3 linked regions of the Homo sapiens genome follow. The protein of the gene in region 1 interacts with the protein of each later gene in a pairwise test. Each region holds a gene or a part of one and is shown in the gene's direction. Other genes may lie near its edges. The genes, in order: SH3GLB2, KRTAP5-11 and EFHC1.

Region 1 (3,652 bases):
TGGTGCAATCTTGGCTCACTGCAACCCTTGCCTCCTGGGTTCAAGCGATTCTCCTGCCTCAGCCTCCTGAATAGCTGGGACTACAGGCACATGCCACCACGCCCAGCTAATTTTTGTATTTTTAGTAGAGAAGGGGTTTCACCATGTTGGCCAGGCTGGTCTTGAACTCCTGACCTCAAATGATCCACCCGCCTTGGCCTCCCAAAGTGCTGGGATTATAGGCAGGAGCCACCGTGTCCGTCCCAACCTGGTCACTTTCAAGAGGTCAGCAAGGCCCAGAGATGAAGGGACTGCCCGGAGCACACCCAGGCAGGCCCCCAAGGTCAAGCAGAAGCGACCTGCAGGACTTCCGGGGAAAGGAGGGTGGCTCCGGGTCGTGCTGTGTGTCTGCCTGTAAATCTGCTCTGTGGCTCATTGAGGGGCCAGATAACTTTTGGGTGCCAGGAGCAGAGAATTGTGCAAGCATGTATTATGGTCTGTAATCATATTAATAAGGGAGAAGTGGACGGGCCCTGGCTTCCTCCTCTGTATAGTGCTGGGTCAATCACAACAGTCTCAGGGTTGGGCATGAGCAAGAGCGTATTCTGGAAGTCAGCAGGCCAGGTGCACCTGTGGGCAGGGCCGGGTCTGGGTCTGTTTCTGTTTCATTTTTGGGCTTGAACTAAGGAGCCCTGTGGCTTTGGCTGCTGTCTCCCCACAGGTGCCCGAGTGGAGGAGTTCCTGTATGAGAAGCTGGACAGGAAGGTCCCCTCAAGGGTCACCAACGGGGAGCTGCTGGCTCAGTACATGGCAGACGCGGCCAGTGAGCTGGGGCCGACCACCCCCTATGGTGAGCAGGCCTCACAGCCAGGGACTAGGGGTCATGGTCTTTAGCTCTGATTCTCCCTCCCTCCCTTCCTTTTTTTTACTTAAAAAAATAATTATACAAATAATACCTGAATTCATTCTAAATGTAAAAACTCTACGCAGAAAAAAAGAGTAAAAAATGGAATCTTCTCTTAACCAGTTTTGGTTTGTGTGTGTGTGTGTGTTTTGTTTTTGTTTTTTTTTGAGATGGAGTCTCGCTCTGTCGCCCAGGCTAGAGTGCAGTGGCGTGATCTCGGCTCACTGCAAGCTCCACCTCCTGGGTTCCCGCCGTTCTCCTGCCTCAGCCTCCCAAGTAGCTGGGACTACAGGCGCCCGTGACCACGCCTGGCTAATTTTTTTTGTATTTTTTAGTAGAGACGAGGTTTCACCATGTTAGCCAGGATGGTCTCGATCTCCTGACCTCGTGATCTGCCCGCCTATGCCTCGAAAACTGCTGGGATTACAGGCGTGAGCCACCGCGCCCGGCCTATTTTTTTTTTTTTGAGACACAGTTTCACTCCATCACCCAGGCTGGAGTGCGGTGGTGCGATCTCAGCTCACTGCAACGCCCCTGCCTCCCAGGTTCAAGTGATTCTCCTGCCTCAGCCTCCCGAGTAGCTGGGACTACAGGAGCCCGCCACCACACCCAGCTAATTTTTGTGTTTTTAGTAGAGGCAGGGTTTCACCATGTTGACCAGGCTGTTCTCAAACTCCTGACCTCAAGTGATCCGCCTGCCTCAGCCTCCCAAAGTGCTGGGATTACAGGTGTGAGCCACCGCACCTGGCCTATTTGTGTGTATTTTTTAATGGAATCATATTGTGTGCTATCTGGGAACCTGACTTTTTTTTTTTTTTTTTTTTTTTTTTGGAGATGGAGTTTTGCTCTGTTGTCCGGGCTGGAGTGCAGTGGCGCAATCTCAGCTCACTGCAACCTCCGCCTCCTGGGTTCAAGCAATTCTCCTGCCTCAGCCTCCCAAGTAGCTGGGATTCCATGTGCCCACCAGCACACCTGGCTAACTTTTTTGTATTTTTAGTAGAGACGGTGTTTTACCATGTTGGCCAGGCTGGTTTCCAACTCCTGACCTCAAGTGATCTGCCCGCCATGGCCTCCCAAAGTGCTGGGATTACGGGCATGAGCCACCGCACCCGGCTGGAACCTGACTTTTTAACTTGACATCATATTACAGGTATCTTTTCACTGAAGCATTTATAGAACCATATCCATCTTTTTTTTTTCATTTTAAAATTTTATCCAAGTATAAGCTATATATTATGTGTTTAAGTGTATAATTCAATGATTTTTAGTAAATTTACAGAGTTGTACAAACATCTCCACAATCTAACTTTTTTTTTTTTTTTTTTTTTGAGGCAGAGTCTCACTCTGTCACCCAGGCTGGAGTGCGGTGGCGCAATCTCAGCTCACTGCAACCTCTGCCTCCTGGGTTCAAGCATCCCGGGTCCTCCCTCAGCTACCCAAGGAGCTAGGATTGCACACGCCCACCACCACTCCCAGCTAATTTTTGTATTTTTAGCAGAGACCGGGTTTCACCATGTTATCCAGGCAGGTCTCGATCTCCTGACCTCCGGTGATCCACCCGCCTCAGCCTCCCAAAGTGCTGGGATAACAGGCGTGAGCAACTGCGCCCAGCCAAACTTATTTATTTTTTATTTTCTGTTACCTTTTTTGAGACAGGGTCTGGCTCTGTCCCCCAGGCTGGATTGCAGTGGTGCAATCTCAGCTCACTGCAACCTCTGCCTTTTGGGCTGAAGGCATCCTTCCACCTCAGCCTCCTGATTAGCTGGGATTACAGGTGTCCACCACCATGCCCTTCTAATTTTTATATTTTTCTGTAGAGATGGGGATCTCGCTATGTTGCCCAGGCTGATCTCAAACTCCTAAGCTGAAGTGACCTCCCACCTTGGCCTCCCAAAGTGCTGGGATTACAGGAGTGTGCCACCGTGCCCGGCCCACAGTCTAATTTAAAGAACATTTCCATCACACCCCAAAAGTCCTTCATGTCTATTGTCAAGCCCCATTTTCACCTCCAGCCAGCCAACCACTAACGTGTTTTCGGTCCCTATAAGTTCATTTTTTCTGAACATTTTATATAAATGGAATCATATGACATGTTGTTTCTTGCATTTAGCTGCTTTTACCTAACATAATTTTTTTTTTTTTTTTGAGATGGAGTCTCACTCTGTCACCCAGGCTGGAGTGCAGTGGCACAATCTCGACTCACTGCAAGCTCCTCCTCCCGGGTTCATGCCATTCTCCTGCCTCAGCCTCCCGAGTAGCTGGACTACAGGCGCCTGCCACCACGCTCGGCTAATTTTTTGTATTTTTAGTAGAGATGAGGTTTCACCATCTTGGCCAGGCTGGTCTTGAACTCCTGACCTCGTGATCCACCCGCCTCGGCCTCCCAAAGTGCTGGGATTACAGGCATAGCCACTGTGCCTGGCCTCAGGTAAATTTAACTTAACTCTTTTTTTTTTTTTTGAGACGGAGTCTCTCTCTGTCACCTAGGCTGGAGTGCAGTGGCGCAATCTTGGCTCACTGCAACCTCCGCCTCCTGGGTTCAAGCAATTCTCTTGCCTCAGCCTTCCAAGTCGCTGGGATTACAGGCACCCGCCACCATGCCCAGCTAATTTTTTGTGTTTTTAGTAGAGACGGGGTCTCACCATGTTGGCCAGGCTGGTCTTGAACTCCTGACCTTGTGATCCGCCCGCCTTGGCCTCCCAAAGTGCTGGGATTACAGGCGTGAGCCACTGCGCCCAGCCAATTTAATTTAACTTTTTAAGAAGTTGC
Region 2 (3,173 bases), on another chromosome or scaffold:
AGGCCTGCCCTCAAGTCCTTATAGTATACTAATCCATTACAAGCACTTCCCTTTAGGACCCACCTCACAACACTCTTGCATTGGGGATGATGTTTCCAACACATGAATGTTGGGGGACACATGCAGACCATGGCATAGAGAAATCTCTCTTTCCCACCTGGAGTAAAACTGAGCAGGGAACAAAAGTGGGCAACTGGAAGAAGCAGCCTAAGAGGAGTGAACACTGTAAATGGGGAAGAGAGAAAACAACAGCAGAGAGATTTGTGGGATTTTCAGAAATGCTTGAGTAGAGGAAGAGATTCCCTGCAAACACCAAAATGAGATTATATTATTGTTATTTGGACCGTAAAGGAAAAAAAAATTGGCTGAGCATGGTGGCTTATGCCTGTAATCCCAACACTTTGGAAGACCAAGGCAGGAAGATCACTGCAGACAAGGAGTTTGAGACCAGCCAGGGCAACTTGGCAAGACCCCATCTCTACAAAAAATTTAAAAATTAGCTGGGTATGATGACACACATCTATAGTCCCAGCTACTCAGGAGGCTAAGGAAGGAGAATTCTTTAAGCCCAGGAGTTAGAGGCTGCAGTGAGCTATGATCATGCCACTGCACTCCAGGCTGGGTGTCAGAGCAAGACCTTGTCTCAAAAAAAGAAAAAAAAAAAAAAAAAAAGGATCTCCACTGATACAATTTGGATGTCCCCTCCAACTCTCACATTGGTGGGGCGGGATAGGAGATGTTTGAATTATGGGGGCGGATCCCTCATGAATGGTTTAGCGCTATCCCCTTGGTGATGAGTGCGTTCACTCAGATCTGGTTGTTCACAAGTGTGTGGCCCCTCCTCACCCCTTGCTCCCATTCTCACCATGTGGCGTGCCTGCTCCTGCTTCACCTTCCACCATGAGGAAAAGCTCCCTGAGGGCTTGCCCAGAAGCCGAGCGGAGATGGGTGCAATGCTTGTGCAGCCTGCAGAACCATGGCCATTCTAACCTCTTTCCTTTATAAATTACCCAGCCTCAAGTATTTCTTTACACAATGCAAAGAACGGTCTAACACACCCAGAAAACTGAGACTGGCATGAGTAAAATATTACTTAATATAATATGCATGAATATTTATATTAATATTATGCTTGCAGAAATCTACCAAATCCATCTCCAGGATACATGATAATAAAGAATTTGTTTTCTTCTTTACTTGTGTTTCCTATAAAGACCATGGGTGAATTTTGAAATCTAAAAACATAAAATTAATATTATCTGGAGGGATAGACAGGGAAGATGAGAGCATGTGGGCAGAGGCTGTTGCCCATTGGTCACATGTGGTCAGCAGAGAGCGGGTGACCAGCACCCTGGAACTTTGCGGGAAGCACCAGACCAGCCTGGAGCTGAGGTTTTAATTGTAGGGGCCAAAACAAATGGGGAAGAAGACAAATTTAGAAAACAAAGAAAGTAGATGCTCAACTGAGCCAGGAGGAAGTCACTAGCAAAGAGGAAAAAAATAGAGCTCTGGAAAAATAGTGTAAACAGTCACAAGGAAAGGACCCTGCGTCCTCCCTGACCTCTGGACAGGTATATAAAGAGCCCAGGCTCAGGGGGCTCCACACCTGCACCTCCCTCTCACCTGCTCCTCTACCTGCTCTACTCTCAATCCGCCAGAATCATGGGCTGCTGTGGCTGTTCTGGAGGCTGTGGCTCTGGCTGTGGGGGCTGTGGCTCCGGCAGTGGGGGCTGTGGCTCTGGCTGTGGGGGCTGTGGCTCCAGCTGCTGTGTGCCCATTTGCTGCTGCAAGCCTGTGTGCTGCTGTGTGCCAGCCTGTTCCTGCTCCAGCTGTGGCTCCTGTGGGGGCTCCAAAGGGGGCTGTGGCTCTTGTGGGAGCTCCAAGGGTGGGTGTGGTTCTTGTGGCTGCTCCCAGTCCAACTGCTGTAAGCCCTGCTGCTCCTCCTCAGGCTGTGGGTCATTCTGCTGCCAGTCCAGCTGCTCCAAACCCTGCTGCTGCCAATCCAGCTGCTGCCAGTCCAGCTGCTGCAAGCCCTGCTGCTGCCAATCCAGCTGCTGCCAGTCTAGCTGCTTCAAGCCCTGCTGCTGCCAGTCCAGCTGCTGTGTCCCCGTGTGCTGCCAGTGTAAGATCTGAGGCTCTGGACCCAGACCTTCAGGTTTCTCCTCTTTGGTGAAAGCATTTCTTATGGTTTCTCTGAATCAGTTCATCCCACACATCATCCTGAGGCACCTGCACCTGCTCTAGCTCATCATCCATGCATGCACCTCTTTCCATGGCTCGGCTCTCCTCTAGGCCCTGCCTTCAGCTTCCTCACTCCGGAAACATGTGTTTCCTTGATGCAGGAGGTGTTCTTCCCTGGACGCCATGGTGTTCCCTGCACTTGGGTGTGGACCATCTTCTTCTTCTCCCTGGGCTGACTGAGATGCTAGGTCTGACCCCACAAGGCCAGGCCGACATTCCTGAGTGATCACTAAGAACCAGTTTCTCAACCACCACTGGGATTCTGGGTCCTCCTGGGCTGCTGCCTGTTCTCCTGTGACCCACCTGTGAGCAAGAAGGTCTCCTTCCTTCCTGTTGTCTCCATCTATTTAAAAAAAAAATGAATGAATTTCCTTGCAATAAAGCCTCTCATGTCTGTAAACCAACTGTACACTTGGTGCAATTCTGTCTAACCCCTTTCCTGTGTGGTGACTGATTCTGTGTTCTAATTTGTCAGCTAAGCTGGGAAATGCCTGCCAGCAGGCTTGGTGCATTCAAAAAGAACCACGAAGTTCACTTCTGCCTTCCACGCGGCCTCAAATATCTTCACTCTCTCTGCTTGCAGAAGAAGAGGGCTCAGCCTGGGGAGGATTCGGTATTCAATGCCCACCCTAGAGGCGCAGAGGGGCAGGCGGGCCCTGAGTCCTGATGACCAGCCAAGCAGGGCTTTGCACAAGACCCATGGCTTCCAGCTTCCCGCTCTCCTCTGGGGCCTTGGAAGGACCCAGGCAGGGCAAGGTCGGAGGAGGGAGGAGTGAAGCACCGCTGAGCTCCAACGCACTCTGATTCAAACACTCAATTAGCCTTTTACAATTATGAGGTCAACGGCTTTCCATAACTAAAGGTAACCAGGAAGTTACAGAATGGCCCAAGGTGTCCTCGGAGCTCAGTCTCCCGGCAGGAAAGGAGAGTTC
Region 3 (3,652 bases), on another chromosome or scaffold:
CCAGTGTATAAACATTTCTTTTTCTCCACAACCTTGACAGCACCTGTTATTTTTTTACTTTTTAATAATAGCCATTCTGACTGGTGTGAGATGATATTTCATTGTGGTTTTGATTTGCATTTCTCTAATGATAGTGATGTTGAGCTTTTTTTTCATATGGTTATTGGCCATGTGTATGTCTTCTTTTGAGAAGTGTCTGTTCATGTCCTTTGCCCACTTTTTAATGGGGTTCTTTGCTTTTTTTCTTGTAAATTAAAGTTTCTTATAGATGGTGCATATTGGACCTTTGTCAGATGCATAGTTTGCAAATATTTCTTTCCCATTCTTTAGATAGTCTTTTTACTCTGTTGATGCTTTCTTTTGCTCTGCGGAAGCTCTTACGTTTAATTAGATACCATTTGTCAATTTTTGCTTTTGTTGTGATTGCTTTTGGTGTCTTTGTCATGAAATCTTTGCCCATTCCTATGTTTAGAATAGTGTTGCCTTGGTTGTCTTCCAGGGTGTTTATAGTTTTGGGTTTTACATTTAAGTCTTTTATCTATCTTGAGTTGATTTTTATATCTGGTGTAAGATATATGGCTAGCATATGGCTAGCAGGTTATCCCAGCACCTTTCCCCATTGCTTATTTTTGTCAACTTTGTTGAAGATCACATAATTATAGGTGTGTAGCCTTATTTCTGAGCTCCCTATTCTATTCCATTGGTCTATGTGTCTGTTTTTGTACCAGTACTGTACTGTTTTGGTTACTGTAGCCCTGTAGTATAGTTTGAAGGCAGGTAACATGATGCCTCCAGCTTTGTTCTTTTGCTTAGAATTGCCTTGACTATTCAGGCTCTTTTTGGGTACCATTGAATTTTAAAGTATTTTTTTCTAGTTCTGTGAAGAGTGTCACTGGCAATTTGATAGGAATAGCATTGAATCTGTACATTGCTTTGGGCAGTATGGTGACTGTAAAGATATTGATTTTTCGTATCCATGAGCATGTAATGTTTTTTCATTTGCTTGTGTTATCTCTGATTTCCTTAAGCAGTGTTTTGTAATTCTCATTGTAGAGATCTTTCATCTCCCTGGTTAGCTGTATTCCTAGGTATCTTATTCTTTTTGTGACAGTTGTAAATGGGATTGTGTTCCTGATTTTACTCTCAGCTTGGCTGTTGTTGGTGTATAGGAGTGCTAGTGATTTTTGTATGTTGATTTTGTGTCCTAAAATTTTGCCGAAGTTGTTTATTAACTTAAGGAGTTTTTGGGATGAGGCTCTGGAGTTTTCTAGATATAGAATCATGTTTTCTCCAAACAGGGATAGTTTGACTTTCTCTCTTCCTACTTGGATGTCCTTCATTTCTTTCTCTTGACTGATTGTTCTGGCCAAGACTTCCAATATTGTCTTGGATAGAAGTTGTGGAAGAGGGCATCCTTTTCTTGTGTCAGTTTTCAAGAGGAATGCTTCCAGCTTTTCCCTGTTCAATATAATGTTGGCTGTGGGTTTTTCATAGATGGCTCTGATTATTTTGAGGTGTGTTCCTTTAATACCTAGTTTATTTATTTATTTATTTTATTATTATACTTTAAGTTATGGGGTACATGCGCACAACGTGCAGGTTTGTTGCATATGTATACATGTGCCATGTTGGTGTGCTGTACCCATTAATTTGTCATTCAATTAGGTATATCTCCTAGTGGTATCCCTCCCCACACCCCCCACCCTATGACAGGCCCCAGTATGTGATGTTCCCCACCCTGTGTCCAAGTGTTCTCATTGTTCAATTCCCACCTATGAGTGAGAATATGCAGTGTTTGGTTTTCTGTCCTTGCGATAGTTTGCTCAGAATGATGGTTTCCAGCTTCATCCATGTCCCTACAAAGGACATGAGCTCATCATTTTTTATGGCTGCATAGTATTCCATGGTGTATATGTGCCACATTTTCTTAATCCAGTCTATCATTGTTGGACATTTGGGTTGGTTCCAAGTCTTTGCTATTGTGAATAGTGCCGCAATAAACATATGTGTGCATGTGACTTTATAGCAGCATGATTTATAATCCTTTGGGTATATGCCCAGTAATGGGATGGCTGGGTCATATGGTATTTCTTGTTCTGGATCCTTGAGGAATCACCACACTGTCTTCCACAATGGTTGAATTAGTTTACATTCCCACCAACAGTGTAAAAGCATTCCTATTTCTCCACATCCTCTCCAGCACCTGTTGTTTCCTGACTTTTTAATGATCTCCATGCTAACTGGCATGAGATGTGTGGTTTTGATTTGCATTTCTCTGATGGCCAGTGATGATGAGCATTTTTTCACGTATCTGTTGGCTGCATAAATGTCTTCTTTTGAGAAGTGTCTGTTCATATCCTTCGCCCACTTTTTGATGGGGTTGTTTTATTTTTTCTTGTAAATTTGTTTAAGTTCTTTGTAGATTCTGGATATTAGCCCTTTGTCAGATGGGTAGATTGTAAAAATTTTCTCCCATTCTGTAGGTTGCCTGTTCACTCAGATGGTAGTTTATTTTGCTGTGCAGAAGCTCTTTAGTTTAATTACATCCCATTGGTCAATTTTGGCTTTTGTTGCCATTGCTTTTGGTGTTTTAGTCATGAAGTCCTTGCCCATGCCTATGTCCTGAATGGTATTACCTAGGTTTTCTTCTAGGGTGTTTATGGTTTTAGGTCTAACATTTAAGTCTTTAATCCATCTTGAATTAATTTTTGTATAAGGTGTAAGGAAGGGATCCAGTTTCAGCTTTCTACATATGGCTAGCCAGTTTTCCCAGCACCATTTATTAAATAGGGAATCCTTTCCCCATTGCTTGTTTTTCTCAGGTTTGTCAAAGATCAGATGGTTGTAGATGTGTGGTATTATTTCCGAGGGCTCTGTTCTGTTCCATTGGTCTATATCTCTGTTTTGGTACCAGTACCATGTTGTTTTGGTTACTGTAGCCTTGTACTATAGTTTGAAGTCAGGTAGCGTGATGCCTCCAGCTTTGTTCTTTTGGCTTAGGATTGTCTTGGCAATGCAGACTCTTTTTTGGTTCCATATGAACTTTAAAGTAATTTTTTCCAATTCTGTGAAGAAAGTCATTGGTAGCTTGATGGGGATGGCATTGAGTCTATAAATTACCTTGTGCAGTATGGCCATTTTCACAATATTGATTCTTCCTACCCATGAGTATGGAATGTTCTTCCATTTGTTTGTGTCCTCTTTTATTTCATTGAGCAGTGGTTTGTAGTTCTCCTTGAAGAGGTCCTTCATGTCCCTTGTAAGTTGGATTCCTAGGCATTTTATTCTCTTTGAAGCAATTGTGAATGGGAGTTCACTCATGATTTGGCTCTCTGTTTGTCTGTTATTGGTGTATAAGAATGCTTGTGATTTTCGCACATTGATTTTGTATCCTGAGACTTTGCTGAAGTTGCTTATCAGCTTAAGGAGATTTTGGGCTGAGAGGATAGGGTTTTCTAAATATACAATCATGTCATCTGCAAACAGGAACAATTTGACTTCCTCTTTTCCTAATTGAATACCCTTTATTTCTTTCTCTTGCCTGATTGCCCTGGCCAGAACTTCCAACACTCTGTTGAATAGGAGTGGTGAGAGAGGGCATCCCTGTCTTGTGCCAGTTTTCAAAGGGAATGCTTCCAGTTTTTGCCCATTC

The links.
Region 2: the proteins of SH3GLB2 (region 1) and KRTAP5-11 interact in binary tests that used the Homo sapiens proteins (3 or more experiments, as listed by UniProt).
Region 3: the proteins of SH3GLB2 (region 1) and EFHC1 interact in binary tests that used the Homo sapiens proteins (3 or more experiments, as listed by UniProt).

Annotation. Positions count from the first base shown.
Region 1 is NC_000009.12:129,018,268-129,021,919, reverse strand, and holds part of SH3GLB2 (endophilin-B2), read left to right. Parts: intron 1-700; coding exon 701-829; intron 830-3,652.
Region 2 is NC_000011.10:71,581,327-71,584,499, reverse strand, and holds KRTAP5-11 (keratin-associated protein 5-11), read left to right. Parts: upstream 1-1,624; 5' UTR 1,625-1,662; coding exon 1,663-2,133; 3' UTR 2,134-2,645; downstream 2,646-3,173.
Region 3 is NC_000006.12:52,440,752-52,444,403, forward strand, and holds part of EFHC1 (EF-hand domain-containing protein 1), read left to right. Parts: intron 1-3,652. UniProt on the Homo sapiens protein: Microtubule inner protein (MIP) part of the dynein-decorated doublet microtubules (DMTs) in cilia axoneme, which is required for motile cilia beating.